Linked DNA regions of Homo sapiens: regions 2, 3 and 4 are each linked to region 1. Evidence: fine-mapped expression QTL. A gene starts in region 1. Each other region holds a variant in brackets. All regions are shown on one strand. Distances are between the middles of the regions.

Region 1 (7,864 bases):
CCTCCCAGAGCCTGGGTGTCAGCTGAGGACTCCCATGATCTCTGCTGGCAGCCAGGAGCAGGCAGTTTGCCTGTTAGGACATGAATTCTGGCTGCACTGCACCGAGAGAGGCCCCTGGCCAGGAGGGGGTGCTGCAGGAAAAGTCTGGGGAGACACCAGGACATAGATGTCCGGGAATCAGCACCAGGTGGGGGATGGGAGGGGTGGGGGGGGTGGGAGGGGTGCGGGGGTGGGGGAAGATTGCTGGCAGGGTGGAAGAGCCCGGGTGAGTTCTGGAGGAAGGATGCTTGGAGTAGGTTCAGGGCAGGCAGCAGGATGCAGGGGAAGGATCTGAGGGGACAGGGAGCCTCCCGGAAAAGGAGAGTGCCCAGCCTGTCCTATAACCCCCATGACCCCCACAAGGGGGTCAGCCTGGATCTGGTCTCTGGCAGCCAGGAGGAGAGCTGGGCTGTGGGGATGCAGGCCCTAAGAGAAGGAGGGGCACCTCTTATCTGGCTGTTAGAAGGTCTGAGGGATGGCACTGAGCAGCAGGAGAGGGGACTCACCTTTCTGGTCTCAGAGTCAAAGGGCTCTGGCGTCGGGGTCTTGGCCTTTTGGACCTCCTCCGGGGGTGGGGCCAGCACACGGGGCAGCCCCAGGGGTCGAGTGGCTGCAAAGTTCATCAGTGGGTAGATTCCATTCCTGGGGACACAACAGGGTGGCTGGGGGTTCAGGCCTGACAGCTGCCTGGCCCCCAACCTTACATCAGTTCTCACCTGACATCCTCCAGGAATTTGTCCAGCTCCATGAAGGAGACTTCCGAGTACCTGGCATGGAAGTGGGAGGCACATGAGGGGCTGGCCGGGGCGAGGGGAGGGGAGGTGCGGGGAGGGGAGGTGTGGGGAGGGGAGGCTTCTGGGTGCTGACTGCTCACCGCCACTGCAGCGGGGGCCTGCGGGGCCGGGGAAGCTCCGCCAAGACCGCGTGCAGGTCCATGGCCTTGGTCTTCTCCTCCACCACATTCTCAGGCATGAGGTCTGCGGCCACAAGAGCATCAAGGCGGTGTGCTCAGGCCGTGGGTCCTGCAGGGCCCCTTCCACGTCCCAACCTCCACCTCCCCAGCCACCCCCCGGGCCGGCCTGCTGCTCACACTGGTGCTGGATGAAGCAGTGGGCTGCCAGGAGCTTCAGCGAGTGCACCTCGAAGAGCACGCGGTGGAAGAGGAGGCTGTGGGCAGAGGGCCGGCGGGCAGGGTCCCGGGCCAGGCAGCAAAGGATGAACTCCTGGGGCACAGGGAGGAGAGGCTGGTGGTGTGCAAGGGCTCTCTGCTCTGGCCCCGCAGTTCGAGGAGAGGTGGCCCCTGAGTTCCCCATGTCCCTCCTCAGGGACACACAGGACATGCAGGGATGCCCATAGGGAGGAGTCCCAGCAGCAGCAGCCAGGCCAGGACCTGGTCCTCTGAGCTTGAGGACAGCTGGGTTCTGGGATTGGAGCACCATGCTCTGCTTCCCTCGACCCCCAAAAAATCGTGGGGAGAAGCCATGATCCTAAAGTCACACCTGCAAGCCTCCTACCCATGGCCTTTTGATCGGCTCAGCTCGGGCCCAACACTGGAGACGACCTTGATGGGTCCCCACTCTGTCCACATCCGTGCCCAGCCCGGCTCCAGCTCGCCACCAGCCCCGACCAGGCACCCCCATCTCCTGAGGCCATGGAGTTAAGTCTAGACTCCGAGCAGAGGGGGCTGTGGATGCAGCTTCCATCCCATACCTCTTTTTGCCTGCTTGGCACCCACCATGTCCCCCCACAAGCTGGAGCCTCATCACCTCCTGGAAGCTTAAAGTCAAGGACTTGGAGTGAAGCAGACCCAGGTGCAGATGTTGGCTCCACCACTCACTCTAAAGCCTTGGGCAAAGGACTCATCTCCTCTGAACCTTGGTTTCTTTATAAAACGGGCATGGTGATGGCAGCCACAGAGGGAGGGTCTCTCTTGCCTTCTTGTCCTTAGAATGTGCTGACCCCTTAGGGCCTTCAGGCCTGGAACCAGTATGTGCTCCCACTGAGGTCCTCTTTGGGAGGGGTGCAGTCAGCTGGTATACCCCTCAACTGCACAAACTGTGATGTTCTCCCAGGTCTGCCTGGAGCACCTTGCTAGCCCTAGCTGAGCACGGTGAGCCAGCTGGGGAGGGGCAGGGCAAGCTGCTTACCCGCATGTTGGGGTCACTCAGCGAGTGCCTGGCGCGAGCAATGGCCTCCTCTGTGACCCGGGTGTCCCCATTGGTCTGGATTTCCAGTACAGCCATCTGGGGCACAGAGCCAGGTCAGGCATGGGGAAGGGACCACACAGGTGAGCCAGGCAGGGCACAGTTAGGAGGAGGGCAGAGCACAAGGTGGAGGGCGGGGGCAGTACCTCCAGCGCACACATCCCAAAGGAGAAGATGTCCACAGCGGTCCCATCGGCCACCTCTGAACAGAAGAGAGCACAGGACACGTAGGAGAGAAGCGCAGGGTAGGCACGGGGCACCCGGACCCAGCACCACTCACCTCCATACTCTGGGGGGAAGAAGTGCAGGTTCCGAAGTTCCTCTCGCTCAGCGCGGATGGGGCTTCGGAGATCATCTGGAAGTGCTGTGGGAGGGCGCAGAGCTGAGCGGGCGGGGACCTCTCCAGGACCCCGTCCCCCCAAAGTCCGCACTTACCATTGGAGAAGATTCGGTGCCACACTGCCAAGGGGCGGGAGAAAGAGTGGAGTTAGCTGCTGGGGCATCAGAACTCCTCTGCCCTTGGCTCCAGGCACCTTCCCCTGCCCCGTTCCCCCACCCAGCCCTGCCCCGCCAGCACCGGAGCCGATCTTGATGAGGCCGTTGTGCTGAATGAAGATGGTGTCGCTGGTCAGGTTCCCGTGGATGATTGGGGGGCTGCAGGCGTGCAGGAAGCTGCAGACGTTGGGGAGGGGAGAGTAGGAGGAGCCGGTCAGGAGGCTCTGGAGAGATGGGGGCTCGGTGGCGCCGCGCCCAGGCCAGCCCAGGCCCTCACCTGAGCGCAGACAGGATCTGCGTGCACCAGCGCTTCCAGGCCTGGCGGCGGACGCACGACTCCGTCGGTCGGGTGGGCGCAGGAGAGGCGGCTGGGCCTGCGGAGCCCGCCCCGCATCCTCGCCCAGCCCCTGTCCGAGGCCGCCGGGCACCCCCTCACCATCCCAGTCCCCGAGGCTGCCCCAACCCCGTCCTGTCCCCGTGGCTGCCCCAGCCCGCTCCCCATACCCGGGCGTTCATGGCCTTGTGGTTCTTCTTGGTCTTTTTGAGGAATTGCTTGAGGCTGCCTGATGACACGTACTCTGTGATGAAGATGACCTGCACGGTGCGAGCTCAGGATTTCCACCAGCTGCGGGTTCGTCCCCATGCCCGCCCCACCTAGCTGTGGTCTCTGCCTGCCCGGGGCCTTGCCCGTGCTCACCCTCGCGCAGGCCTCAGAGGTATCCAGCCAGTACTTGTGCAACTTCACGATGTTCGGGTGGTCCACCAGCACCAGCTGCTCGAACACGGTCTGGATCTTCTCCTGGGGAGGGAGGGTGGTCGCTGGGTGGTCAGCAGGTGGTCACCCAAGCAGGATGAGGAGGGGGCAGCGGTCTCACCTCGTGCGCCGCGAAGGCCTTCCTGTCTCCGAAGTGGAGCTCGTTCCACACCACCTCTACCCCCTCCTCCGTGTCCATGGCTAGGAAGGTGCTCTGAAGCCCTGGCATGTTCCCTTGGTTTACCTGGGGGTGAATAAAGGGTTATGTGTGCCCTGGTGTGTGTCAGGGTTGTGGGTGAGGATTTGGTCCCTGTCCACACCTTTCCAGTGGGCCCAAGCGTGGGCTGCAGGCCCTGAGCCACTCTGCGGGAAGGTGGGGCTTGGAGGGTAGCTGCCCCCAGGAGCCAAGGGCTCCTATCCAAGGGCTGGGCTAAGGGGATTTGGAGCAGGTTTCAGGGGGTCGAGGGGGATCCCCAGGAAGCTAGCGGCTGAGTCCAGAGGCATGGGGAGGTGGTCCTGGGAGGAGACTGGCCCTCAGGGAGTCCCAGGGCGAGCGCCAGGCCAAAGGGGTCCAGGGGTGGCTGATTCGCGGGCCGCGAGGGGCCGCGGAGAGGTTTCCAGCCGCCGCGCTCTCCCAGCGCCCCCACGCCCCGCGCAGCCTCCAGGCCCCTCCCGCTCTGGGAGGGCGGTGTCACCCCGTGCCCCAACCCCCGCGCCCACCTGCTCCCGTCGCTTTTGCCAGCGACCACACGGGCTTTCCTCCAGGATGTCGCTCTCGTCCTCGCTCTCGTCCTCCCGCTCCCGCTCCCGTTCCCGGGCCCGCCTCGGCGCCGGCTCCGGGGCCGCCATGGTTCGGCCAGCCCAGGCCACCGCCCTCTGCGCGATCCGCCGCCGGCGCAGCCTCTCCCGGCCCGCCCTGGCCTCGCGCCCAGCAGCCCAGCCTAGAGCCGCCGCGGCAGCCTAGAGCCCCAGCCCCGGCTCTGGGAATTGGGAGGCGCGGGCGCGCGGCGGACGGGCGGGGCCCGGGGGCGGAGCCGGCGCGCACCTCCCGAGCCGCCTGTGCCTGCCGGAGCCAGAGCAGAGCTTCCCCGAGAGCTGCCGAGCCCGGGCCGCGCCCAGGCCCCGCCCCCCCGGAGGCCCCGCCCCGCGAAGCCCCGCCCCAGTCCCTGTTTCCTCCTCGTCTCCCAGGCCTGCTCCGCGAAGCCCCTCCCCAGGCCCTGTCCCCTCCTCGTCCTCCAAGCCTCCTTCGCGAAGCCCCGCCCCAGGACCCGCCCCACCCCCGCGAATCCCCGCCCCGTTTTAGTCCCCGCCCCCGCCCGTTCCCAGGGTCCTCCGCGAAGCCCCACCCCAGGCCCCGCCTCACCTCCTCGAAGCCCCGCCCCTATGAGGCCCCGCCCCGCGCAGAGGAACCGCCCCCAAATCCCCGCCCCCTCGGAGGCCCCGCCCTGCGGACACCTGGAGCCCGGAGCGCCCACTTCTCTCGCGGTTGCTCCCCTAGGATCTGGGGGAAGACCCGGGGCATCTGGGGGCCCCCAAGCCCACGGCACCCTCCAGCTGCAGAAGACCCCGCGGGCTCGAAAGCGGGACCCGCTCTCCTGGCCACGCACTCATTCCCCGGCCGACCCCCAAGGGACAGGTCGAAGGGGCACCGAGGGCGGGGGAAAGGCCCACCAGCAGGCTGACCCAGGCTGACTTTGATCGGTGACCACGAATCTCTCCCTGGCCCGCCCACCAGTGCCTCCTCCCGCCCACAAGCCCATCTTCTCACTTTCCAGGATGGCGATTTTCTCTTTTCTCCTCAAACGCGCATTTCCTTTCCGCGGCTGGCTCCCATGGGACAGTGGAACCATGAGGGGGGAGCCCACCCGGCTCACACGACCTCTCCCTCCGGAGGCCGCTCTAAGCACACCCTCCAGCCACGCCGACCACCGGGGCTGTCCCCGATTCTCACCTAAAACCCCCTTCAGCCCACAGCCCCCACGGCCTTCCTGTGGTCTCCTCCCTCCTTCACGGCGGGTCCTCATCCTTTACCTTCTCTCTCTGGAGCCCAAATTGGAACTCCGCTCCTCCCCTCCGCGCAGCTCCATGCACTGGCCCTTTGGGACGCCTCTTTCTTTCTTTGGCAGAGGTGCATCTGGCCCTGCTGCGTCCCCTGTGGTCTCTCTTTTCTGACCAGCCTTGGTCACCAGGCACCTTGTGTGTGGTTTCCACCAATGCCAGGTGATCCTGCTGAGGCCCTCTGCAGTAAAGGTTTGGGGTGTTCAAATCCTCCACCCTGAAACTGGCCCTGACCAGCTCCTGGGAGACACCCTCTAAGCCCTTGGAATGTTCTGCCTGATTTGAATGTCTGTGTTTACCTCGGCCACACCAGATTCTATGCTAAGCTTGTCCAACCCGCAGCCCAGAGGGTGCATTCGGCCAAGGACAGCTTTGAATATGGCCCAACACAAATTCATAAACTTTCTTATTGAGATTTTTTTTAAAGCTCATCAGCTGTTGTTAGTGTTAAGTGTATTTTATTTAAGGGTATTGCCCAGGACAATTCTTCCAATGTGTGCCAGGAAAGCCCACAGATTGGACACCCCTGGTCTGTGCTAACAATATGGTCTACGGGGGGACCTTGGGCCATGTGGCATCAGCCTGACCTCTGCAGGGGCTGGAGGCCAAAGTCAGCCACCTGGGAGGTCAGCCATGCCTGTGTGACCAACCCAATAAAAACCCTGGACACTGAGGTACGGAGGGCTTCCCTGGCTGCTGACATGCTGTGCTCATTGTCACACCTCAGTGCTGGGAGGTTGAGCACTGTCCCCATGCCTGCAGTGGGTGGGGACACCTGCAGACCCGTGCTGGTCTGTCCTGGGTTCTGTTCTGTGAGTCCTTGCCACTGCTGATTTTAACGCATCCATTGCTGTAATAAATAGTACCCTTTCCGAGTTCTGTGAGTCCTTCTAGTGAACCATTGAACTTGAGGGTGGTTTTGGGGAGCCCCCCCAGTGGTCCCTTCTCACTTGGTATGAGGGCCTAAACATGAAGGCCCAGTAATTGGTCCCATTACCCTACCTCACGTCAGCTGCCTTCTTCAGCTGAGCCCACCCCAAGTACACGGCCCTGTGCCATCGGACATGACAGGCACTTCCCCTCAGGGTCTCTGCCCTGGTTATACCTTTGCCCGGAACGCCCTTCCCAAACATCCTCTGAGGTCACTTCCTGAGAGGCCTGTCCTGACCACGAATCCTGACATCACAGTCCCCACACCCTTTCGCCTGCTTGACTTGACTTTTCCCGGAGTATTCACCCCACCTGACTTGCATCTGGGTTTTTCTCATCTCTCTTCTTCACTGTCTGTGTCCCTGTTGCGATTCGAGCTCCCGCAGGGCAGGAGTGTCTGCTCGTTGTCCCTGCTCTTTCTCTGGTGCGAGGACGGTACCCGGCACACAGCAGGCCCTCAGCAAACACTTGTTGAATGGATCTGTGGGTGGGCAGGGGTGCGTTTTGGCGGGTGTGGTCCAGAGAAGCCCCTAAGGAGGTAAGCCTTGAGCAGAAGAATCTCAATGAATTTCCTCCCCTTTCTCCGCCCCCATAACCAGACACACATGTTCTGTGGTAGGTCACATAGTGTCCCCCAAAAGTCTACATCCTGATCCCCAGTACCTAGGAGCACAGCCTTATTTGAAAAAAAAAAAATGGTCTTTGCAGATGTAAATAAGTTTAGGATCTTGAGATGCTGGGGTGGGCCCTAAATCCAATGTTTGATGTCCTTATCAGAGAAAGAAAAGGGATACTTGGGGTGCAGAGAAATAAGGTAGACAGTCACATGAACATGGAGGCCAGTGTTGGAGGGATGTACCCACAGGTCAAGGCGTGCCTGGGACTCGAGGACACGAGCTGTTCCAGTATAATAAAATATATAAAATAAGAATAGTTGTACTGATATAGATCTTAGATATGATTATATATGAATATCATTAATCATTAGTTTGTAGCAATTACTCTTTATTCCAATATTATAATAATCCTCACTCTATAATCATAGCCTAGGAAAAACCAGGCCATACAGAGATAGGAGCTAAGGGGACATAGTGAGGAGTAACCAGAAGACAAGAGTGCGAGCCCTCTGTTATGCCCAGACAGGGCCACCAGAGGGCTCCTTGGTCTAGCGGTAACGCCAGCGTCTGGGAAGATGCCTGTTGCCAAGTGGACCTTGGTCTAGCGGTAGGCGCAGTGTCAAGGAAAAACACCTGCTACTTAGCAGACCGGGAAAGGGAGTCTCCCTTGCCCCGGTGGAGTTTAAAGAAGACTCTACTCCTCCACCTCTTGTGGAGGGCCTGACATTAGTCAGGCTCGCCTGCAGTTATCCGGAGGCCTAACCGTC
Region 2 (5,840 bases), 89 kb after region 1:
GCTCACCAGCCTGGGGAAGGAGGCCCAGGCGTCCTCCCTGCTTCCCGCAGACAGGCGACGGAGACAGACGGACGGGGAGAGAGAGAGCAAAGCAGGAGCTCGGAACCTGCGAGCCACACCCAGCACACAGCCCTGCCTGAGCTCTGCTGGACACCAGTGGGCCTGGCTCCCACCACTGGACCCCTCTCCCCGACCAGGGTGGGAAGCCTGGGTGGGGCGGGGTGAGGCGAGGCGGCCAGCGTGGAGACAGCAGTGCAGACCCGAGCCAACTCGGAAGAGGATTCAGGGCCACGCAGAAGGTAGGGAGAAGCCAACAGATGGGTGCCTTGGAAGACCCTCCCTAGCCCCACAACTCAGCACCCCCGACTTCTGGCAGCAAAGGGTTGAGCGGAAAGGCCAACGCAGAACGCCAAGGAAGAGCCCACAGGACGGCCGCTAGGCTGCAGGGGGGACGCTCACGAGGGAGGAGAGGCGGCACCAGCCACTGTGGGGGAGCAGTGTAGCCACACCAGGCCAGGGGGGCAGGCCACAGGTGGGGCAGCCTGGGGCAGGCTGAGCTGGGGGCAGGGGGTGCTGGCAGCGCCAGTGGGGAGAGTGGGGAGGGCCACGAGAGGTGGCCTCAGGCAGCTCCTGTGGCTGTGTGTGGGACACAACAGGTGGTGAGATGGAACCCTCTGCCCAGCCTCCGCCCAACGGGCTGTACCTCCTCCTCCTCCATGCGCCGCAGAGTCTCGCTGATGAACTTGATGTACTGGCTCGTCAGTGTGGTCAGCTCGCTGTAGTGCGTACGCAGGTCCACGTACTGTGGAGTAGAGCCAGGGTTAGCCCTGCGAGAGCTGCAGCTCCAGCCAGAGGCCTGCCAGCCCCTCACCCAGTTAGGTTCGGCCCCACCCTACCTCCTGGATGACACTCTCTGATCCCGACTGGACCTTGGGCTTCTTGGCCGGGGAGGCCACCGGCTCAAGCTGCGCCTTGTACGTCACCAGCTGGAGTTCATAGTCCTGTGGCAATGCACTGCGGTCAGCCACCAGCTCTGCCCTCCGATGGCCCCTGCCCAGCCCCTAAACCCTCACATGGGCTTTCCCTGGCATGGCCCAGGCTCAGGGAAAGCCCGCCATCATCCTGGCAACGGTCCCGGACTTGGGGCCTGGTGCAGGCGGCTGGGCCTCACCTTGATGGCGTTGATGTACTGTTTCGCAAACCTCTGGCACTCCTCGACCTTCTCGCCGTGGCGCTCGATCTCCTCCAGCAGGGCCTGGGTGATGGTGTGGTCAGAGCCGTGGCCGCAGGGCACGCCCAGCCGCCCCGTCCCCACCGACCCAAGCCCACCTGCTCCTGCCGCAGCTGCTCCCGCACAGCCTGGCTGTCGGCCAGCGGCATGGCCTGGATCTGCTCCTGCCGCCGCCTGGCGTCCTGCAGCCAGGCGCCCAAGGGGTCTGCACTCTCGCGGTAGTAACGCAGCTGGCGGCCCAGTTGCTCGAGCTCGCGCTGCCGCACGTCGGTCTGGGCCAGCACAGCCTGCCAGCGCTCAAGCAACTGGGCGACCCGCTCCCGCCAGCGCTCCACCTCCACGTCCCGCTCCCCGTGCCGCTGCTGCAGTCGCTCCCCCACCTCCTGTGCCCCCCGCAGCTCATCCCGCAGGGCGTCGAACGTGGGCTGCTGTGCCTCGGCCTGGGCCCGCAGCTTCTGTTGGGGACAGGAGGGACATGTGCGGCTTCAGCTGGGCCCGCTGTACCCCCACCCCGCCATGAAGCCCAAGCCTCGAAACGATACCTTCAGAGAGGCCTTGGTGGCCTCGAGCTCCGGGAGGGTGGCCGGCACGGCCTGGGCCTCCTTGAGCTGCTCCTCGTGGGCCCTGAGCACCTCCTCGGCCCCCTGCGTGCCGCGGATCACCAGGCTGATGGTCTTGAGCCTGGCGGGAAAGCGGGGCTCAGGGCCATGACATGGGGCTCGAGCAATAGCCCAAGGGAATGGAACCCAAGCCACAGCGACCCAGGGTGCTGCCTGCCAAGCCCAGACCCAACCCTGGGGGTCAGCTGACCCTGTGGTCAGAGGCTTGCTTCAGGAGAAGAACAGCCTTGGGGAGAAGGAGGTTGGGAGCCTCTGTAACACAAGGACACTCAGGACCCAGCCTGGAGAGGGGGTGCGCCAGCCAGGAACGGCAGACCCCAAGGCCCCGAGACAGGACGAGCCCACTGGCTGGATGACAGCGGCATCCTGGTGCCCACAGGGCCTGGAAGCGTAGTTCTCAGCCCTTGCAGCCCAAGACTGGGCGAAGGGGACACCGGGGTGGAAATGGCACCCTGTGGTAGCCAGCGGCGGCCCTATCACTGTGCTGGTTCTGTGAGGAGTAGACAGCGGGTGGACCTGTGGTTTGCAACACAGGAAGAGGCGGCGGCCCTATCACTGTGCTGGTTCTGTGAGGAGTAGACAGCGGGTGGACCTGTGGTTTGCAACACAGGAAGAGGTGGCGGCCCTATCACTGTGCTGGTTCTGTGAGGAGTAGACAGCGGGTGGACCTGTGGTTTGCAACACAGGAAGAGGCGGCGGCCCTATCACTGTGCTGGTTCTGTGAGGAGTAGACAGCGGGTGGACCTGTGGTTTGCAACACAGGAAGAGACTATGACATAACACATTGGAAATAAATGCCAGAGGCCCTTAAGTCCAGGCCAGGAACAGGACAGACGAGAGGCAGGGTGCAGGATTCCTTACTGTGCCACTGAAAGTGGATCCACAGCTTCCCCACCTCACTCAGCAGCCGCTGCCCAGCTCCACTGTCTCTTCCCCACACCCGAATCTCATCACCAGGAAGTCCCCCGGCCGCCACTGTCGAAGCGTATCCAGCCCTGAACTCTTCTCACCACCTCTGCGGCCACCACCCCAGCTGGGCCTCCCGCCTCCTGGCCAGATCTCTGAACAGCCCCCAACTCGTTCCCTCCTGCACCCTCCTGCAAGGTCACAGCCCTCACCCCAGCACCCCCCAGCCGACCCCAGCCCCTCGCCTGTGGCCAGGTGCACTCACTTCTCCAGGTAGATGGCAGACAGGCTGCGGACCTGCTCCAGCTTGCCCAGCGTCAGCTCCAGCTCCGAGCGCAGCGTGGGGGCCGCAGGCGATGGCTCTGGTAGGGCCAAGACCTTCTCGGCCTCGGCAGAGAGCCGGGCGACCCCCTTGCCCAGCCCCTCCACCTCTGCCTGTGCCTTCTGCAAAGACAGGGAGTGGGAACGCACTCATCACCGAGCGCAGCACACAGCGCCCCTTGAAGGCCAAAGGAGGGAGGGTGGGAGGAGGGATGGGGAGAGGGATGGGACTGGATGGGGGGGGACGGCCCCTGCCTGCTGCTCGGCGATGCGCTGGGCACACTCCCGTGCCGGCTCTTTGTCCAGCGGCAGCCGCAGGCGGTGCACGGTGCGCGTCTCACAGGCCTCCAGCTGCAGCCGGATGTCTTTGAGCTCGGAGATGCAGCGCTGGCAGCGAGACTCTTCCTGTGCACCTGGGGAACACATGTGGGTCACTCCACCGCCCACCTCGCACCAGCCCAACCGCCCCAGCCCTGCCGTGCCCTACCCTGTTCCAGGCTCTGCAGCAGCTGCTGGTAGTGGTGGCTGCAGGAGCCGTACTCGCGCTCAGCCATCAGCCGGTCCTCGGGTCCGAAGCCGCCCGCGTCCTGGCTGTCCCGCAGGAAGGCCTGGTAGTGCAGCTCCAGGCTGTGCAGGGCTTGGCGCTGCTCCTCTGGCTTCAGGGTGCGGAACTGGGGGAAGCACGTGGGGCTGAGTGCCGGGCGAGGCGGCCGTGCCCTGCACAACGCCTCTCCCCTCCTCCCACCCAGAGAGCCCCCGGCTCGGGGGCAGGCGTACCGTGGCCAGGGACCAGGAGCGGATGAGCTGCACGTCGCGGCGAAGGCTCTGCCAGGCCAGAAGGCTCTTCATGTCCACGTG[C/T]AACTGGTGCCACAGCGTGACCAGGGCCTGGTGCTGGGCCTCCAGCCTGGCAGGTCAGGGCTACAGTCAGCGTCACCAGCGCCCCACCCGCCTTCCAGCCCCCACCTGCTGAGCCCCCGCCACCCACCTGGTGACGGCCTCCTGGGCCTCCTGGTTGGGCGGGGGCACCAGGAAGCACACGGAGGGCACGGCGGCCTCGCTGCCGGAGCTGCTGAGCACCTTCCAGTGGGACGGCTGTGCAGGGCCCACCAGCTGGCACTCGTCACCCTTGTGCACAGTCACCTGGGACGGGCAGAGTCGGTGAGGACATGGCCACACCCTGCCCTGCCTGGCCACGCCCCCCAGTGGACCCCCGGCCTGCGCTCACCTCCACCTGCTTATAGTCGCACACGGCCAGCAGGGGCAGGCGGCCCCGCATGGGGTGGGCTGGGTGGCGGGGCTTCAGCTGCACGACGGCCTTGGCCCGCTTGGCCAGGCCTGAGAGGTGGCCCTTGTACTCGTTCAGCTGTTCCTTCTCGTCCTGTGGGGGAGGGGCAGCATCCAGACGAGGGCCATGGAGACCCACAGGCCTGCCCCAGGCACCCCCAGACCCCGGGACCAGGCCTGTGGGGCCCTCCTGATGCTCCCGGGGTGGCAGCACTTGGAAGCAGGAGGTATAGCTGGGACAGGCCCCGGGGGTTGGCCCCAAGCAGACCCATGCACCCTCGCTCCTTCCCAACCCAGACAGGGCACCCTCCTCTCACCCCAGCTCACCCACCATGTCCTCCCAGCTACGCTCTGGTCCCTACAATGCCCTCGCCCCTTGCCCCTCCCCTGCGGGCTGCAGAAGGTACTGCCTCCTCCCATCCCACCCCTCTGCGGGGGCCAGGCCGCAGGACGGCACACACCTGGGAGCTGCCGGCTCTCCCCCCGGCCCAGCCCTGCCGACCTCAGAGGCCATTTCAGTCTCCAGTCCCTCTTCCCTGTCACTCCCCACTGTGCACCCGCCCTCCTGGGTGATCCCACCCCTGCTCCCAGAGCACAAAGCCCAGTTCCACTCTGCCCGCTCCAGATCTCAGGCCAAACAGCTGGTGCCCCTTCTATAGTACAAGGGCTGGCAGTGCTCCTTCTATAGCACAAGGGCTGGCGGTGCCCCTTCTACAGCACAAGGGCTGGCGGCAGCTGCTGACTTCAGGCTTCCACTCACTCTGTGGCTATGGAGATGGGGGCGGCCCGGCTTGGACCGGCTGCCTCTCGGCTCCCCACATCCTGCCTCATTCCCCCCTTGGCTGACCTCTACACCTCCCATGGTGCCTCCCAACTCCTGCTGGCCCCTCCAGTTGCCCCCTAGTCTCCAGAGTACCCATGCAGCCCAGAACATCCTGCCTCATTCCCGCTTCGGCTGACCTCTACACCTCCCATGGTGCCTCCCAACTCCTGCTGGCCCCTCCAGTTGCCCCCTAGTCTCCAGAGTACCCGTGCAGCCCAGACTCCAGGCCAGCCCCTCCTGACACGCCCCTGCACACCCCCTCCCTCACCTGGGCATCCTGCAGCAGGTCCTCCAGCCGGGTGACGGTGGCGGAGCGATCACAACTGTATTTCCTACGCAGTGCCTCCTGCAGCTTCTGCAACTGCCCCTCGGCCTCCCGCACATCTGAGAAGAACTGGGGCAGCGGGAGGGGGTCACGCCAGGCTACCTGGGACCAGAGCCCCAGCCCACAGTTGTCCCAGGGCAGGCCCAAGACGGGGGCACTGAGGAAGGAGTGGCAAAGCCCCCAGGAGGCCTGGGGAGCACCCCTGTCCAAGGCCCCGGTCAGGCTGCAGGCAGCAGCTGGCAACGTCTGCAGACAGGAGGGCTCCTGATTGGAGCTGCCGAGGGGGTCCAGGGGCTCCTGCAAGGCTGCCGCTGAGCCACAGTGCGGAGG
Region 3 (7,864 bases), 81 kb after region 1:
GGTCAATCAGGCCCTTGCGGTAGGCCTCGTACACTGACATCTCCTTGCCCGTCTCGGGGTCCACGATGACCACTCGGCGCTTGCGCACGGAGGACTTGGAGGACGTCTTCCGCTCCCGCTTCTTCTCCTTCAGCGGCAAGAGACACAGGCCCGTCTGGGGGTCAGTGATACAACGCTCCATCAGCTGCAGGTAGGTGAGGTTCTCCTCCGTGTTAGGGTCAAAGAAGCCCTTGGTGTCGTCCGAGGGGTCGGTCAGGATCTCGTTCATCTCCTCATCGAAGAGGCCGCGCTTGTAGGCCACCTCCACGGGCAGCCGGTGGCTCTCCTCAGGGTCGATGATGCCGCCCGTGGCGATCTGGGCCTCCAGCAGGCGGATGCCATGGTCCTTCAGGATCAGGCCCTTCTTCATGGCCTGGAAGAGGGAGATGAGCTTCCCAGAGTAGGGGTCCTTGTACCCAGTGACGGCGCGCTCGGCCGACAGCAGCTTGTCCTTGAACTCGGGGCCCACAATGCCCATACGCACAGCCTCCTCCACCGTCAGCTTCAGTCCCTTGATGGGGTCGATGACGTAACCGGTGGCCGCCTGCGCCTCCAGGAGCTCAAAGGCTGTGCCGGGGCGGATGATGCCCTTCTTCATGGCCTGGTACACCGAGAGCCGTTCCTTGGTGGCGTCCACGAAGACACCAGCGATGCAGCTGGTGCCTTCCAGGAACTTCTGCAAGTTCTTGGTGACCTCCTCGATGGAGGTCAGGCCCTCCCGCAGCTGCAGCGCCGTGGCCTCGTCCATGACCTGCGAGCGCACCAGCTCCTCCATGGTGATCTGCTTCCGCAGGCCACGGAAGGTCAGCTTGCGGGCGTCCGACAGTGGCAGGAGCAGCTGGCCGGTGCCGTCGTCACGACGGCACCGCCTGAGCAGCTGCGTGTAGCTGAGGCGCTCGTCGGTGGACGGGTCCACGTAGCTGCGCACCTCGCTGGGCTCTGACAGCTGGTCGTGCGTGTCCTTGTTGAGGTAGCCACGCTGGTAAGCCACCTCCAGGGGAAGGTGGAAGCCCAGGCGGGGGTCCACGATGCCGCCGGTGGCCAGCTGGGCATCCAGCAGCCGCAGGGCCTCCTCAGTAGGGATCAGCTCCTTCTTCATGGCCTGGAAGAGCGAGATGGTCTGCTCGGTGTAGGGGTCACGGTAGCCGGTGACCGCCCGCTCAGCCGAGAGCAGGCGGTCGTGCAGCTCGGGCCCCACGAGGCCCTTCCGCACAGCCTCATCCACAGTCAGCCGCTCCCCCTTCACCGGGTCCAGCAGGAAGCCTGTGGCTGCCTGTGCCTCCAGCAGCAGGCGGGCCACCTCGGCACTCAGCAGCCCTTTCTTGAGAGCCTGGTAGATGCTCAGTGTCTGCCTGGAACCGGGCAGGTAGACACCAGCCACGGAGCCCGTGCCATAGAGGTAGCACCAGGCGGACTCCGCCTCGAGAGCCTCACGGAGGCTCCTGGTGCCCTCCCGGAGCAGGTTGTAGGTCTCGAGAGAGATGATCCGAGCCTCGAACAGGTCCTCAGCCGTGAGGCGGCGGCGCACGTAGTCGTAGGAGGCCAGACCCTGCTGGCGGATGATCTCTGTCTTCTCAATGATCTCGATGATGATGATGATCATGCGTTCCTTGGTCACCCGGCCGGCCTGGAAGTCAGCCATCAGCTGGGCCCGCTGCTCCTCGGGGATCAGGTCCGACTGCATCACCTCCCACAGGGACATGGTGGAGCCGCCGTGGCTGCCGCCGCCGGGAATGTCGATCTGTGTCTCTTCAAATGCCCTTCTTGTCTCCTCCTCAGTGTACACCTGCGTGGTCTCCACCACCTCAGCCTTCTCCGCCCCTTTCAGTGGCAGAAGGCGCAAGCCCGTCTCGGGGTCCTCCACGCACCGCTCCAGCAGCTGCCTGTACGTGAGGTTCTCATGCGTGTTGGGGTCAAAGAAGCCCTTGGTGTCGTCGCTGGGGTCCGCCAGGACGCGGTTCATCTCCTCACTGAAGTAGCCGCGCTGGTAGGCCACGTCCACAGGCACGCGGTGGCTGTGCACGGGGTCGATGATGCCGCCCGTGGCGATCTGGGCCTCCAGCAGGCGGATGCCGTGCTGCCGGAGAACCAGGCCCTTCTGCATGGCCTGGAAGAGGGAGATGGTGCTGCCCGAGTAGGGGTCTCTGTAGCCGGTGACGGCCTTCTCGGCAGACAGCAGCTGCTCGTGAAGCTCGGGGCCCACCACGCCCGCCTTCACGGCCTCGTGGACATACAGGCGCTGGTTCCGCACGGGGTCCACCAGGAAGCCAGTGGCCGCCTGCGCCTCCAGCAGGAGCGCAGCCGTTGTGGCTCTCAGCAGGCCCCGGCGCATGGCCTCGTAGATGGACACCTTCTCCTTGGTGTCCTCCAGGTAGATGCCGGCGAGGCAGCCACTGCCCTGCAGCAGCGTCCGCACGGAGCCCAGCTCCGAAAGGTCCTTGACCGTCGTCTTGCCGTCCTTGAGCTGCTCAAACTGGGCTCTGCTGAGGACCCCGGAAGCCAGGAGCTCGCTGGCTGGCACAGGGGCACGGAGGCCGCTGAAGGACAGCCTCTCCTGCCGCAGGGTCTCCACCTCCTCCACGATGGTAATGAGAATCTTGATGACCTTCTCCACGGTGACCTTGCCCGTGCGGAACTGACGCAACAGCTCCTGCCGCTGCTCCGCAGTGAAGTACTCAGAGCTGATGAGCTCCCACACCGTCACCGTCCTGCCCTTGAAGCCACCCACGGGGACCTCAACCGGGGTCTTTTCAAAGGTCTCACGGGCCTGCAGCTCTGAGTAGAGCTCCTCCTGCCGGGCCCGAGCAGCCTTTTCTGAGAGCGGCAGCAGGCTCAGCCCGGTCAGCTGGTCGGGCCGGCACCGCTGCTGGAGCTCGCCGTAGGTGGCCGGCTCCCCTGTGCTGGGGTCACTGTAGGCCTTGGCGTCGGCCCTTGGTGCCGACAGGGCCCTGCTGGTCTCCTCATCCAGGCAGCCTCGGGCGCAGGCGACATCCAGGGGCACGCGGTGGCTCTTGCTGGGGTCCACGATGCCGCCCGTGGACAGCTGGGCGTCCAACAGGCGCAGGCCCTGCTCCCGGGGAATGAGGCCCTTCTTCAGGGCCTGGAACAGGGAGACGCTCTGCCCTGTGTAGGGGTCCCTGTACCCTGTCACAGCCTTCTCGGCTGATAGCAGCTTCTCATGAAACTCGGGGCCCACCAGGCCAGCACGCACTGCCTCGTCCACGGTCAGCCGGGCGCTGGTGGCGGGGTCGATGATGTGCCCGGTGCCGGCCTGGGCTTCCAACAGGGCCACGGCCATGTCGGATGGCAGCAGGTCTTTCTTCAGGGCATTGTAGATACTCAGCTTCTGCCCCGCCTCCTCCAGCCATACACCCGCGATGACGTTGGCACCCCGGAGAGCCCGCCGCACAGTGTCCACCTCGGCTACGTCTCGCACAGAGCGCTCACCTCGCTGCAGCTGCTGGTAGAGCTCGCGGTCGATGACCCTGCTCTCCAGCAGCTCGGCGGCTGGCACCAGGCTGCGCAGGCCCTCAAAGCAAAGCCGGCCCTTCTGCTCCTGCTCCTCCACCACCGTGATGATGATCTTGATGATCTTCTCCACTGTGATCCGGCCCGTGCGGAACTGCCGCAGCAGGTCCCGCCGCTGCTCTGCCGTGAAGTATTCCGAGTTGATGATCTCCCAAATGGTCACCGTCTTGCCCTGGAACTTGCCGAACGGCGCAGACACGGTGGCCTTCTCAAAGACGTCCCGGGCCTCGGAGTCAGTGTAGACCAGCTCCCCGCCCTTGGCAGCCTTATCCGTGAGTGGCAGAAGGCACAGGCCCGTCTCGGGGTCCTCCACGCAGCGCTCCAGTAGCTGCAGGTACGTGAGGTTCTCGTGCGTGTTGGGGTCAAAGAAGCCCTTGGTGTCGTCGCTGGGGTCCGCCAGGACGCGGTTCATCTCCTCGTCGAAGTAGCCGCGCCGGTAGGCCACGTCCACGGGCACGCGGTGGCTGTGCACGGGGTCGATAACGCCGCCCGTGGCGATCTGGGCCTCCAGCAGGCGGATGCCGTGCTCCCGGACGATGAGGCCCTTCTGCATGGCTTGGAAGAGAGAGATCTGCTGGCCAGTGTAGGGGTCCTTGTAGCCAGTGACGGCGCGCTCGGCCGACAGCAGCTTGTGGTGCAGCTCGGGGCCCACCACACCCTCCTTCACAGCCTCGTTGACGGTCAGCCGCCGGTTCCGCACAGGGTCCAGCAGGAAGCCTGAGGCCGCCTGCGCCTCCAGCAGGATGAGGGCCGTGCCGGGACTCAGCAGCTGCCTCTGCAGGGCGGCGTAAACACTCAGCTTCTCATTGGTGGCCTTCAGCAACAGCCCTGCGATACTGCTGCGGCCCTGCAGGTAGTGGCGCACGTCTTCCCGCC[G/A]TGCGAGCTCGTCCACCGTGGTGTGGCCCTGCGCCAACCGCTGCAGCTCCTCCGCACTCAGGATGCCGGCCTCCTGCAGCCTCTGAGCTGACACCTTCCGCCGCAGGCCATCGAAGCTGTGCTCCGGCTCTGCCTCTGCCGCGGGGCCATCAAGTGCATCCCGGCCATTGGGCAGGGTCTTTGTGGCAGCCACCTGCGAGGCAGTGACCTCCTCTGAGTGCGCCAGCGCGGCCCGGTGCTGCTCCTCCAGGAGCTGCAGCTGCTCACGCAGCCTCTGGTTCTCCTCAGCCAGCAGCTCCTCCTGCTGCCGCCGCTGCTGCTCCAGCTGCTGCAGCTCCTCCTGCTTGCGCCGCACGCCCTCCTCGGCCTCATGCTGCCGCCGCCGCGCCTCCTCCATGCTGGCCACCAGCCGCTGCCGTTCCTGCTCCATCTGCTGCTGCTGCCGCTGCTGCTCCTCACGCAGCTGCTGTGCCTTGGCCACCTCGTCCTGGAAGAGCTGCTCCAGCTTGGCCTTCTCCTGCTCGATGAAGCGCTCCCGCTGTAGCAGGCTGTCCTTTTCAGAGAGGAAGCTTTGCTGCAGGGCCTGCGTCTCCTGCAGCAGCTGCTCCTGCTGCACCGTCTGCATCTGCAGAAGAAGAGGGTGTGATCAGGGACCGCCAGCCCAGGAGCACCCATCACCCACCAAAGCAGATCCCCGGGCCCACCCGCCCGTCGCACGTAGAGGGGGCGGTACCTCCTCAGACTTGAGCTGCAGCAGTTTGGCCTCCTGTTGGAGCTTCTCCTTCTCACGCTCCAGCTCAGCGATGGCCTCCCGCAGGCGCTCGGCATCATGGTCACTCTGCTGTCGCTGGATCTCCAGTGTCTGCACCAGGGTCACCTTCTCCTGGGTGGCGAGCTCCGTGCGGTGCAGCTTCTCACCGATCTCCTCCGCCTGCTTCCGGAAGCGCTGGGCGTCCTCCTCAGCGCGGGCCTGGGCTCGGCTCATCTCGGCCACACGCAGCTTGAGGCGCTCAGCCTCAGCGCTCATCTCCAGCTGCCGCTGCCGCTCGGCCTCCAGCGTCCGCTGGAAGCCCTGCGTCTCCTCCGCCAGCTGCTGCGCCATCTGCTCCTTGTCCTCCTGCAGCCGCCGCGCCTGCTCCTGCGCAAGCTCCTTCTGCTGCTGCAGCAGTTCCGCCTCAGCCTTGAGTCGCGTGGCCTCCTGCACCGCCTGCATCTTCTCCTTGAGCATCTTCTCTGCCAAGGCCCGCTGCTGTGCCAGGTCCTCCTCTGCCAGCTGCCGCAGTCGCGCAGCCTCTTGGGCCGCCACACTCAGCCGCGCGGCCTCCTCCGCCACCTGCTTCATCTTCTCAGCCTCCTCCTGCAGGAAGCGCTGCGTATTGTCCTTGTCACGCAAGATGAGTGCGCGGTTCTCAGCCTCGATGCGTGCCTTGAGCTTGCTCAGCTCCTCCATCTGCACGCGCACCGAGAAGAGCTCCTCCTCCACCTGGCTGCGCTGGCGTGCGGCCTCCGTGGCCTCCGCCTTCAGCCGCTGCAGCTCCTCGTCCAGCAGGTTCTTCTGGTGGTCGGTCTCCTCCAGCTGCAGCCGCAGTGTTGTCAGCTCCTGCTCCACCTGCGCCTTCTGCCGCAGCGTCTGCTCGGCGAATTTCTTATGCTTCTCCATCTCCGCGTCAGCTGCCTGCTTCTGCCGCAGGGCCGCCTGCTCCGCCTGTGCCCGCCGCGCCGCCTCTTGCTCGGCCTCCTTGCGCAGCTTCTCTGCAGCCGCCTGTGCCTGAGCCCGGGCCTGTGCCTGCTCCTCTGCCGACTGCTTCAGCCGCTCGGCCTCTTCCACCTGCCGCCGGGACTGCGCCGCCTCACGCTCCGCCTGCACCCGGGCCTCCTCCGCCTCCTCAGCCGCCCGCCGGGCCGCCTCCGCCTCGCCGCGCAGCTGGTCCAGCACGCTCTGCTCCTGCTGCAGCGTCTGCTGTAGCTCCTGCTCCTTCTGCTGCACCGCGAAGGCGTGTGCCTTCTCTTCCGCCTGCAGCCGCTTCTGGGCGGCCTCCTGGGCCAGCTGCAGCTGCCGCGCCGACTCCTGCTCCGCTCGCTCCCGCAGGCGCCGCGCCTCCTCCACCTTGGCTTTCAGCCGCTCGACTTCCTCCAGCGCCGCCTTCCGCTGCCGTGCGGCCTCCTCCTCGGCCGCCAGGCTCTTCTGCACGCGCTCCTCAGCCTCACGGCGCCGCCGCTCCTCCTCCGCCGCCAGCTGCCGCTGCCTCGCAGCCTCCAGCTCGGCCTGCTCCTTGCTGCGCAGCGTGTCCTCCGCGTTGCTGCGGATGCGTCCCAGCTCCAGCTCCAGCTCCGCCTTGCCAGCGGCCGCCTTCTCGAAGCTCGCCTTCAGCGCCAGGATCTCCTCCTCCACCTGCCGCCGCTGCCTCAGCGTGTCCTCCACCAGCCCCTTCTGCCGCTCCAGCTCGCTGTCCGATGCCTTGCGCAGCTGGGCCAGGCGCTCCTCGATGTCAGCCTTGTGTTGCGCGGCCTGCTCCTCCAGCCGCCGCCGCTGGAAGGCCTCGTCCTCCGCCAGCCGCCGCAGGCGCTCGTTCTCCGCCTCCTTCTCCTTGAGCGCGATCTCCGCCTCCGTCTTGAGCCGCGTGGCCTCGCCGATGGCGGCCAGCTTCTCCGCAAGCACCCGCTCCGCCTCGGCCCGCTGCCGCGCCGCGTCTTCCTCGGCCAGCTGCCGCTGCCGCTTGGCCTCTTCCGCCAGGGCACGCAGGCGGGCGGCCTCCTCGGCCAGCTCGCGGAACCGGCCGGCCTCGGCCTCCAGCCTCTGCTTGGACTTCTCGCTGGTGGAGCGCGACTCCTCCTCAGCCCTCGCCTTGCTGGCCAGCAGCACCTCCATCTCGGCCCGCACCTTGGCCAGCTCGGCTTCCAGCTCCTGCCGTTTCTGCGTGGCTGCAGCCGCCTCACGCTGCAGCCGGGCCAGCTCCTCCTCCAGCAGCTGCCGCTGCTGCTCCCCCTGCTCCGTCTCGGCCCGCAGCCGGATCAACTCCTGCTCCGCGGCCAGGCGCTGCTGCGCGGTGCCTTCCGCCAGCTGCCGCTGCTTCTCCAGCTCTTGTTCAGCCAGCTCCCGCTGCCGGACGGCCTGCTCCTCCGCCTTGCCGCGCCGCCGCGCCTCGCGCTCCGCCTCCTCCTTCTGCTTCTCAGCCTCGGCCTGCGCCAGGCTCTTCTGCTGCGCCACCTCCTCCGCCTGCAGCCGCAGCCGTAGCGCCTCGTTGGCCTTGAGCTGCCAGCGCTCCAGCTCCCGCTCTGCCTCCTCGCGCGCCCGCTCGGCCTCGGCCTGCTGCTGTGCCCGCCGCTCAGCCTCCTCCCGCAGCTGTGCCACAGCCACGTGTTCCTCCTGCAGGGAGCGCTCCAGCTGTGCCGTCTTCTCGGCGAAGGAGGCGCGTTTGCT
Region 4 (7,864 bases), 220 kb after region 1:
CAGCCTGCCCACCCAGTCCGCCCCCGAGCTGCGCCCACCCCGCCCCCGCACCTGGGAGGCGGCGCAGGCCCCAAAGGCCCCCAGGATGACATCCACCACGCGCTGCGACGTGAGCACGTTGCCGCCCACCACCGCCGCCTCGGGCGACGGGTCCAGGATGGAGCCTCGGGGAATGACCACGCGCACTGGCGCCAGGCAGCCCTGTGCGGGGCGGGCGGCTCTCAGGAGCTCTTGGGGTGGGCTCCGGGAGAAACAGCACCCCACCCCCCGCCCCAGCACCCGTGGGGTCAGACCGTGGCTGGGCCCAGGAGGCGCACTCAGGGTGACCTCGGGCTGGGGCCCCCCCTCGCGCACACACCCCTGCGAACCTGGTTGAGTGGGATGTCGCGGCCCACCAGACAGCGCAGGCAGTAGATGAGGGCGGACAGGGTTACGGCCCGCGGTGCGTTGAGATTACCAAACACCTCCGGCCCAGTGCCGCTGAAGTCAAACACGGCGCTGCCCTGCGCGCCCCGAGGGAAGGGAGAGGCTGTCAGCGGCCGCACCGTGCCCCTGCCGCCTAGAGGCACTCTCCCCACGGCCCACCTGACTCAGGCTGATCTGCACACGGAGGCGGATGGGGGAACCGTCGTCCATGTGGTCTTCCGAGGACACCTCCAGGGGCAGGCCCCGGGCCTGCCGGGAGGTTCCAAAGGCACGCAACATGTCTCGCACGGCCAGCTCAGCGTTTGCCTGGCAGGGAGCAGGATCAGTGGTGGCCAGGTCACCTGCAGGATGGCCCTGCCGCCCACACTCCTGTGCCCAGGCCCACCTGAATATGGCCCATGTAGGCCTGCACCACGTCCAGGCCGTACTGCCCAATGAGCTCCCCCACCAGCTGGATGCCCTTCTGGTTGGCTGCCACCTGGGCACGGAGGTCCGACAGGTTGTCGTGCAGGTTTCTGGTTCCGCTGCAGTTGGGGACCTTGCCTGGCGCCCGCAGGGCCTCCGTCACCGCTGGATGGACAGTGTCATCACTGAGCCCCTGGCCAACCCTGTCTGCACCCCCAACCCAGGTTTCCCAGATCCAGACAAGGTCTCTGGCCCCTAGAAAGCACCGAGGCCTGGCCTGGGACTGCTCAGCACCTCAGGAAAGCCCCTCTCCTTGAGCCTGGCTCAGGGTCCCCTCTGAGGCAGCCACAAGGCCCTCTGCAGTGTGCCTGTGCATGTCCCTCTGTGGTCCACAACCCCTGCCCCAGCTCACATTGACCAAGGGAGCAGCCAGCAATGGGCCACCCTATCTGTGTCCTCAACACCCAGAACAGCCTGTGGTTCCATTACACCCACCCTCTGCCACCACCCTCCACCCTGGCCACGCCACTTCCCCTGGGCTCCCAGACCTGCAGCCTCAGACCAGGGCTGTTTTTCCCTGTCTCTCCTACCCCCACCCCCACCACAGGCACCCCTGCAGCCTCCATCCCCCCTTCCCTGCAGCTGCTCAGTGCCAGGCCCTCCACCTCCAGCTGCCCAAACTTGACCCCTGGCCCCCTCTCCCAAATCCCTCCAAATACCCACCTCCACCTCTAAAACTGTCCCCCACCCCCCGCCCTCGCTCTCCACTCAGCCCAAGACATCAGCATCATCCAGGGCAACTGCAGCTTCCCCCCACCTTGCCCCCCAGCCTCCAGGCCACTCTCAAGACCCCGAATCCTCTCTGCACGTGGGCACAGTGGGAGCTCAGCGCAGGCCCAGCTGAAAGCCCTTCACGGCCACCCACCACCCAGTGACTCAGACCTAGGCCCAGAAAACTCTACAGGGGCCTTTGGGCCCTGCCCCTGCCCTGCTGTTTCTCTGCGGACCCCACCCAGTATGACTGCACACACCACAAGCAGCCACCCACCTTGAAACAGGCTTCTCTCTCCAGCACCCTGACCCTCCACGTCTTGGCTAACTCTCCACCCGCAAAACCACCCCTCGGGAGGCCTTCCTGGGCCCAGGCTGAATTCATCTCAGCTCCCGGGATCCGATCTGCAGCTGCCCTTTGGGGTAACCACCTATCTCCTCCCAGCCTCAAGGCAGGCCTGGGCCTATGGGCTGCATCCCACGGTCCAGCCAGGCCTGCTTGCCAGCAGTGGCCATGTGTCCCAGCCTACAGAAGGCCTGCCCCACCCCACTCCCACTCACCCTCCTCCTGGAAGACGCCCCCCTGGACAAGTTTGAAGGACAGAAAGACGGCACCCTCCTGTTGCAGCATGGTGGAGTGGGGGGGCATGGAGCCTGGTGTGATGCCCCCGATGTCTGCGTGGTGCCCTCGGCTGGCCACATAGAACACAGGCCGCGTCTGACCCGGCCAAAACACCTAGCGGGTGGAGAGCCACGGTCAGCTGCATCGGCCACCACTGCCCCAGCAGAGGCAGGCGGGCAGCACCCCTCACCGGTGTGATAACAGTCAGGTCTGGCAGGTGGCTGCCCCCGGCACTGGGATGGTTGCTCAGTAGCACGTCGCCAGGGTGGAGATCGGCCCCCAGGTGCTGAATCTGAAACCAGGAGATGGGTGCAGAGTGGGCACAGGGGAGCAGGGGCCAGAGCGGGGTGGGGGGGGGGTGGAGGGTGAGGGAGGGGGATGGAAGGGTGAGGCGGGGGAAGGGCCACCTGGAACTGCACCGTCTCCTGCATGGCACCCAGGTGCACAGGGATGTGGGGGGCATTGGACACCAGCCCCCCATCGGGCCCAAAGAGGGCACAGGAGAAGTCCAGACGCTCCTTGATGTTGGTGGAGATGGCTGTGCGCTGCAGGATGCGGCCCATCTGCTCTAGGAGCACAAAGTGACCAGGCCCGCTGGCCCCACCCACCCACAGCCTGGCCCCAGGAAAGGGAGGAACAGGACCCACCAGGACTCAAACCCAGGACCCAGGAAAAACCCAGCAGCTTTTTCCTGGGGAAGACCAAGTTGACGGTGTGCCCACTTGGCCACGTCTTAGCCTATGTAAAGGACACCACCTTCCCCAGCCCTGCCTGGAGCCCCCAGCAAGAACCCAGTGCCACCCCTCGACCCTCCCACCCTGCCTGGCACAGCAAGAACCTGGTTCCTAGGCTCTTGACCTCTGGGCTCCCAGCAAGCCGCTGGCCTGACCCTGCACAGATGGGTTCCCTGTGCTGTCCTCAGTATCCCTTCCTTAGCTAGGAGGGCACTCTCTGGATCACATGGCTGCAGGTAAGGGGGGAAGGTGTCCTCCCTGCCCAAGGTTTGTTCTCATGGCCAACTGCACCACACCAGTGCTGCGGCCACACTGCCCGCCCCGTC[G/A]CCAGGGGGTCCTGCTTCTGCCTCTCCCTTTGGGCACAGCCCTGCCAGCTACCCCATGACACAGCCGGCGCCTCATCCCACAGGGAGCCTGGCAGCGGCCACTCACCAGCAATGCTCATGAAGCGGTGTGAGAAGATGGACAGCTGGATAGGGTCCAGCTGGGGGCCCACTGTGCCGGGGACTTCGGCCCCCACGGAGATGCAGATGTCCCCTGTCTTGGTCACCTCTGCCTGGCAACCTGGCTCCACCAGGATGGTGCTGGGGAGCAGAGGGCACAGAGGGCTGCATGGGGCCAGGCGACACCCCTCCAACCAGAGATGCCACGGCCCCAGGCCAGGGGCCACCCCAACGATGGTGGGATACAGAGTCCTGCAGGCCCCTGCAGCCTTGGGCCAGAGAACCCTGCACCAGGGGCCCCGCAGTGGACCCGTCCACATCCTCCACCCTGGCCGGACTTCAGCCCACCTGTTACTGTCGATGATGAGGCAGGGCCCATGGAGCTTGTGCCCATAGCCCAGCTCTGCCAGCAGGTACACAGGGGTCTCCTGGTAGCCCCCCTCAAAGTAGCACTGGGTCATCTGCAGAGGGTGCGGGTGAGTACAGCGCCCGGGCCCAGCACCCTCCCCGATGCCTCTCACAGGGCTTGGTCCCCATCCCGGTGCCCCATGGGTGCTGTCAGGCTGGCACAGGCAGGACCACCAACCTTGTCCACCCGGGGAGGCCCGGTCTGGGCTTTGGGGGCATCCTCGAGGCGAAGACCACTGCGGCCGGTGCCCCGCACTCGCACATCGTCCACGACCACCGGCCGCTCAGGTATGACAAAGCCAAACTCCCTCATGTACCTGCACTCCCCGCGGGGACCCAAGGAGTGGTCAGAGTGAGGCGGCCAGACAGGAGGGCCCCTTGCCAGGGATCCGGAGTCAGGAAGCCACGTACCGCTCCACAAAGGCTGCCCCGAAGTCCCCCGCACGGGGCGAGCGGGCTGTGGCTGGGTGCTGGTGGGCAGACACCATCAGAGCACAGTCCGTGCCCTGGTAGCGCAGGTGCAGGAAGCTCTCAGTGCTGATCTGGGACCTGCAGCAGGTGGTTGGGGGCACTCACACCAAACCCCCTGCCCTGACCCCACCCCACCCAGCGCCCGGCAAGGACACCTGTTCTGCTTCTCGCACACCCCGGGACCACCTGGGAAGTCATCAGGAGGAACACCCACCAAGGGCGTGGTGAGGACAACGTAAGCCCTCTGTCCAGGGCACCCTGGGAGCCCACCTGGGGAAGCCCTGGGCCTGCAGAGCATCCACACACTGCTCCTCCAGGCGGCTCAGCCTCTGGTCCAGCTGCACGAAGGTCTCAGGCGCGTAGAGCAGGGAGCAGGGTTCCTGTGCCTCATGCACCACGTCAGCCAGGGCCAGCCCCAGGGCCGACAGCAGCCCACTGTGCCTGCAGGGATGGGCAGCATGGCAATGGGAGGTCACCTCCCAAGCCCGGCGCAGATCACACCACCTCCGTGCACCCACACCCAGGCCCACCTGTGGATGTGCACCGTGTCCATGCCCAGGGCCCGGGCGATGGCACATGCATGCTGCCCACCAGCTCCCCCAAAGCAGGCCAGCACATGGGCTGAGGGGTCATGGCCTCTTGCCTAGGGAGACAGAAGGGGTCAGTGGGCTCTCCTACTCTACCCCATCCAGCCCCCAGCCTGAGCAGGAGGCCTGGGGCAGGGAGCAGGGCTGGGGGCAGGACAGGCGGGAGAGCAGAGGTGGACGTACCTGCGTGAGTGCACGGATGGGCCGGCACATGGCCTCGTTGGCCACGCGCACGAACCCCATGGCCACCTCCTCCAGGCTCAGCGGGGAGGCCGGGCAGGGCCCGTTGGTCAGGAAGCTGTTGACCTCAGTGGCCACAGCCTCCAGGGCTTTGCGGGAGGCCTCAGGGGAAAGTGGTTGGTTCTCTCCCGGCCCAAAAATGCAGGGGAAGGAGGCAGGCAGCAGGCGACCCAGGACCAGATTAGCATCCGTCACTGTCACAGGGCCCCCTGGGAGGTGGACAGGGTGTGGGGCTTGGGGGCTGGAGGCAGGGGAGCAGGAGTAGGCAGCAGGGATAGGGCTGACAGGAGGGGCTGGGCCTGCGGCGGCAAGCGGAGGGCAAGGCCAGGCCGGCCAGATCCTGACTCTTACCTTTGCGGTAGCAGGCGGGTCCTGGGTGGGCTCCTGCTGACTCGGGCCCAACCACAAAGAGGCCAGACCTAGGGGAAGGAAGGGCTGGGGTTGGAGTTGGACACGAGGAGGGAGACAGGGCTGGGGTCCCAGCCTGGGAAGCAGGAGAGCTGACCTGAAGAAGAGGCGGGAACCCCCTCCCGCTGCCACGGTGTTGATGTCCAGCTGCGGGGCCTGGAGGGTGACGCCAGCTGTGCTGGCCTCGAAGACGTGCTCGAATTCCCCAGCATAGCGGCTCACATCCGTGGACGTGCCTGGCAGGGGTGGGGTGCTGGTGGGTCACTTGAAGACCCAGGGGCCCAGCAGCTGAGCCTCCCCGAGACCCCAGCCCTCGGCCCTCATACCTCCCATGTCAAAGCCGATGACAGGCTGGCCACCCTCCTGCTGGTAGGTGGTGGCTGAGTAGCCCACCACGCCGCCGGCCGGGCCCGAGAGCACAGCACTGGAGCCGCTGAAGGTGTCCATGGGCGCCAGGCCGCCATCGGAGCGCATGAACAACACCTGCACATCCTGCGAGCGGGCAGCAGGCGGGCCATGAGGGGCAGGCCAAGGCCCAGGCCCAGGCCCAGGAGTGGGCAGTGGGGGTGCCTCACAGCCTCACCTTGAGTTGGCCCTGGAAGCCACGGCAGAAGCCCTGCACGTAGCGCTGGATGGCGGGCGTGAGGTAGGCGTCGGCACAGGCCGTGTGCCCCCGAGGGACGATGCGCACCATGGGCATGGCCTCCGAGGACAGTGACACGTGCGTGAAGCCCAGCTCCCGGGCCAGCACACCCACCTGCTGCTCATGCTGGGCCCACCTATGACAAAAACCCAGTGGCACCTCGTCTCCCACCAGGCCCGGCACCTGCTCCCGCAGCCCACAGCCCCACCTCACTCACGTGTACGAGTGCATGAGCACCACAGCCAGGCTGCGGATGCCTCGAGATAGCAGCCCCTCCAGCTTCCCACGCAGGGCCCCCAGGTCCACAGGCTGCTGCACTTCCAGCAGGTCCCCCGTGCGGCCTTCCAGAAAAGCCCAGGAGGCCCCGTTAAAGGCCAGCAGGACCCTCCGGCCCCAAATCCCACAGCAGCGGCGGCACACACACCTTTCACAGGCGTCCCGGTGCCCGCCTCTCCACGGTGCAGCACCACGCGTTCGTCCACCTCCAGCACCTCTTCATACAGCACCTCAGGCATGGGCACGGCCTGGGGGCGGGCAGAGACTCAGAAGAGGCCCAGGCCTGAGGGTCCAGGCCGGGGTCCTGTGTGAGTGGGTGGTACAGGTGAGTGGCTGTGTCCCAACAGGCCGGTCGGCAGGCCCAGGAGAGTCATACCTGGCAGCCCCAGCAAGGCTCACCAAGGGGGCAGCTCTCCACCCCCTAGGCAGCTGAGTGCAGCCAACTGCTCCACCCCCACGAAGGCAGCTTCTTCCGGAAACGCAGCAGTAGGTGCGGGGTTCCACCCCTCCTCTGCCTGAACAGGGTAGCTTGGGTGGCCCCACACCAGCATCCAGGGTGGGCATGGCGGCAGGCAGGAACAGGGCATCCTGTGCCCACTCCGAGGGCTAGGAGAACTTGGGGTCCCACTGGGAATTCGGGAGCTTCCTCTTTGTCGGCTGGTGCCCATGAGCCATCACTAATCCAACAACTGCTCTCCCCACAGGGTCAAGGCATCCCTGGGGGGTGTACACCACACAGCCTGGTCCCCAGCCAACATGGAGCTCACCAGGTCAAAGAGGTCCCCACGGGCTTGGGTGCCAATGTGCAGCAGGTCTCGGAAGCCACGTGTCACCAGCAGCGCCACCCGCTCCCCCTTCCGCTCCAGCAGTGCGTTGGTGGCCACTGTGGTGCCCATGCGGATGCTGGCGATATGACTGGAGTCCAGCGGCTGGTCCCGGGGCAGGAGCATGCCGGCCTCCTGGGGACCACGTGGTCAGTGTGGGGCTTCTGGCCGTGGGGTCCCTGTCCACCCGCTCCGCCCTGGCCCACCTGCTCCAGGATGCGGCGGATGCCTTCGGTTGGCGCGTCCGCATAGTTGGCAGGGTCCTCTGAGAGCAGTTTTAAGACCCGCACGTGCCCCCCTGGGCACTGGGCAAAGACGTCTGTGAAGGTACCCCCACGGTCGATGGCAAAGTGGAAGCGGCCCTCGGGGCTGCCCATGGTGGTGGGGCTGGAGTCCCACAGGAGCTCTTCAGCTGGTAGCCCTGGAAAAACTGGACGGAGGCGGGGTCAGCCCGGGCTCACCTGCGAGTGGGACTAGAGGCTCCCCAGCCCTGCGCATGCGGGGGGTTCCTGAGGGAGAGACCCACGGGCACGACTCTGGGAAGAGCCAGAGCCGCAGGCCCAGCTCCGAGGGCAGCCTGGGCCCGAGCGAGAGCCTGGCCGGCGG

Direction of the effects. Alleles are on the strand shown, and positions count from the first base shown. SD is a standard deviation of normalised expression in the study named. Not every link is listed here.
For the expression in monocytes after LPS of the gene that starts at base 4,480 in region 1, allele A in region 4 goes with a lower level than allele G (large effect, 1.7 SD a copy in Quach 2016).

What was found. PIP is the estimated chance that this variant, and not a neighbour inherited with it, causes the effect.
Region 2: its variant is fine-mapped to the expression of NRBP2 in whole blood (TOPMed, PIP 0.95).
Region 3: its variant is fine-mapped to the expression of NRBP2 in whole blood (TOPMed, PIP above 0.99). The same link has a PIP of 0.9 or more in neutrophils.
Region 4: its variant is fine-mapped to the expression of NRBP2 in monocytes after LPS (Quach 2016, PIP 0.95).

Annotation. Positions count from the first base shown.
Region 1 is chr8:143,836,494-143,844,357 of GRCh38, forward strand. NRBP2 (nuclear receptor binding protein 2) reads right to left here and starts at 4,480. Exons shown (of 18, transcript NM_178564.4): 1 at 4,213-4,480; 2 at 3,614-3,736; 3 at 3,436-3,537; 4 at 3,243-3,332; 5 at 3,016-3,056; 6 at 2,821-2,915; 7 at 2,679-2,702; 8 at 2,524-2,607; 9 at 2,390-2,445; 10 at 2,187-2,282; 11 at 1,130-1,262; 12 at 914-1,016; 13 at 756-806; 14 at 546-681. The coding sequence starts at 4,341. It overlaps MIR6845 (microRNA 6845), which reads right to left and starts at 1,323; the gene lies at 1,263-1,323. RefSeq lists enhancers at 328-1,055, 4,367-5,097, 5,098-5,827 and a silencer at 4,382-4,941.
Region 2 is chr8:143,926,081-143,931,920 of GRCh38, forward strand. It overlaps PLEC (plectin), which reads right to left. Exons shown (of 32, transcript NM_201384.3): 19 at 5,454-5,579; 20 at 4,304-4,456; 21 at 4,064-4,218; 22 at 3,856-3,982; 23 at 3,566-3,749; 24 at 3,334-3,491; 25 at 3,023-3,201; 26 at 1,774-1,912; 27 at 1,330-1,686; 28 at 1,172-1,255; 29 at 897-1,001; 30 at 704-802. Among named protein-coding and RNA genes, the nearest start is that of PLEC, 11 kb to the right of the region's middle. RefSeq lists enhancers at 1-99, 2,140-2,269, 2,660-2,909 and a silencer at 2,396-2,525. The variant C/T (reference allele first, on the strand shown) is at 3,937.
Region 3 is chr8:143,917,328-143,925,191 of GRCh38, forward strand. It overlaps PLEC (plectin), which reads right to left. Exons shown (of 32, transcript NM_201384.3): 31 at 5,177-7,864; 32 at 1-5,068. Among named protein-coding and RNA genes, the nearest start is that of PLEC, 18 kb to the right of the region's middle. The variant G/A (reference allele first, on the strand shown) is at 4,444.
Region 4 is chr8:144,052,398-144,060,261 of GRCh38, forward strand. It overlaps OPLAH (5-oxoprolinase, ATP-hydrolysing), which reads right to left. Exons shown (of 27, transcript NM_017570.5): 2 at 7,465-7,688; 3 at 7,202-7,393; 4 at 6,583-6,682; 5 at 6,376-6,499; 6 at 6,099-6,294; 7 at 5,842-6,007; 8 at 5,613-5,751; 9 at 5,459-5,526; 10 at 5,051-5,316; 11 at 4,811-4,923; 12 at 4,551-4,721; 13 at 4,221-4,358; 14 at 3,988-4,126; 15 at 3,750-3,862; 8 more. The coding sequence starts at 7,635. MIR6846 (microRNA 6846) reads right to left here and starts at 4,983; the gene lies at 4,924-4,983. RefSeq lists an enhancer at 1-358. The variant G/A (reference allele first, on the strand shown) is at 3,285.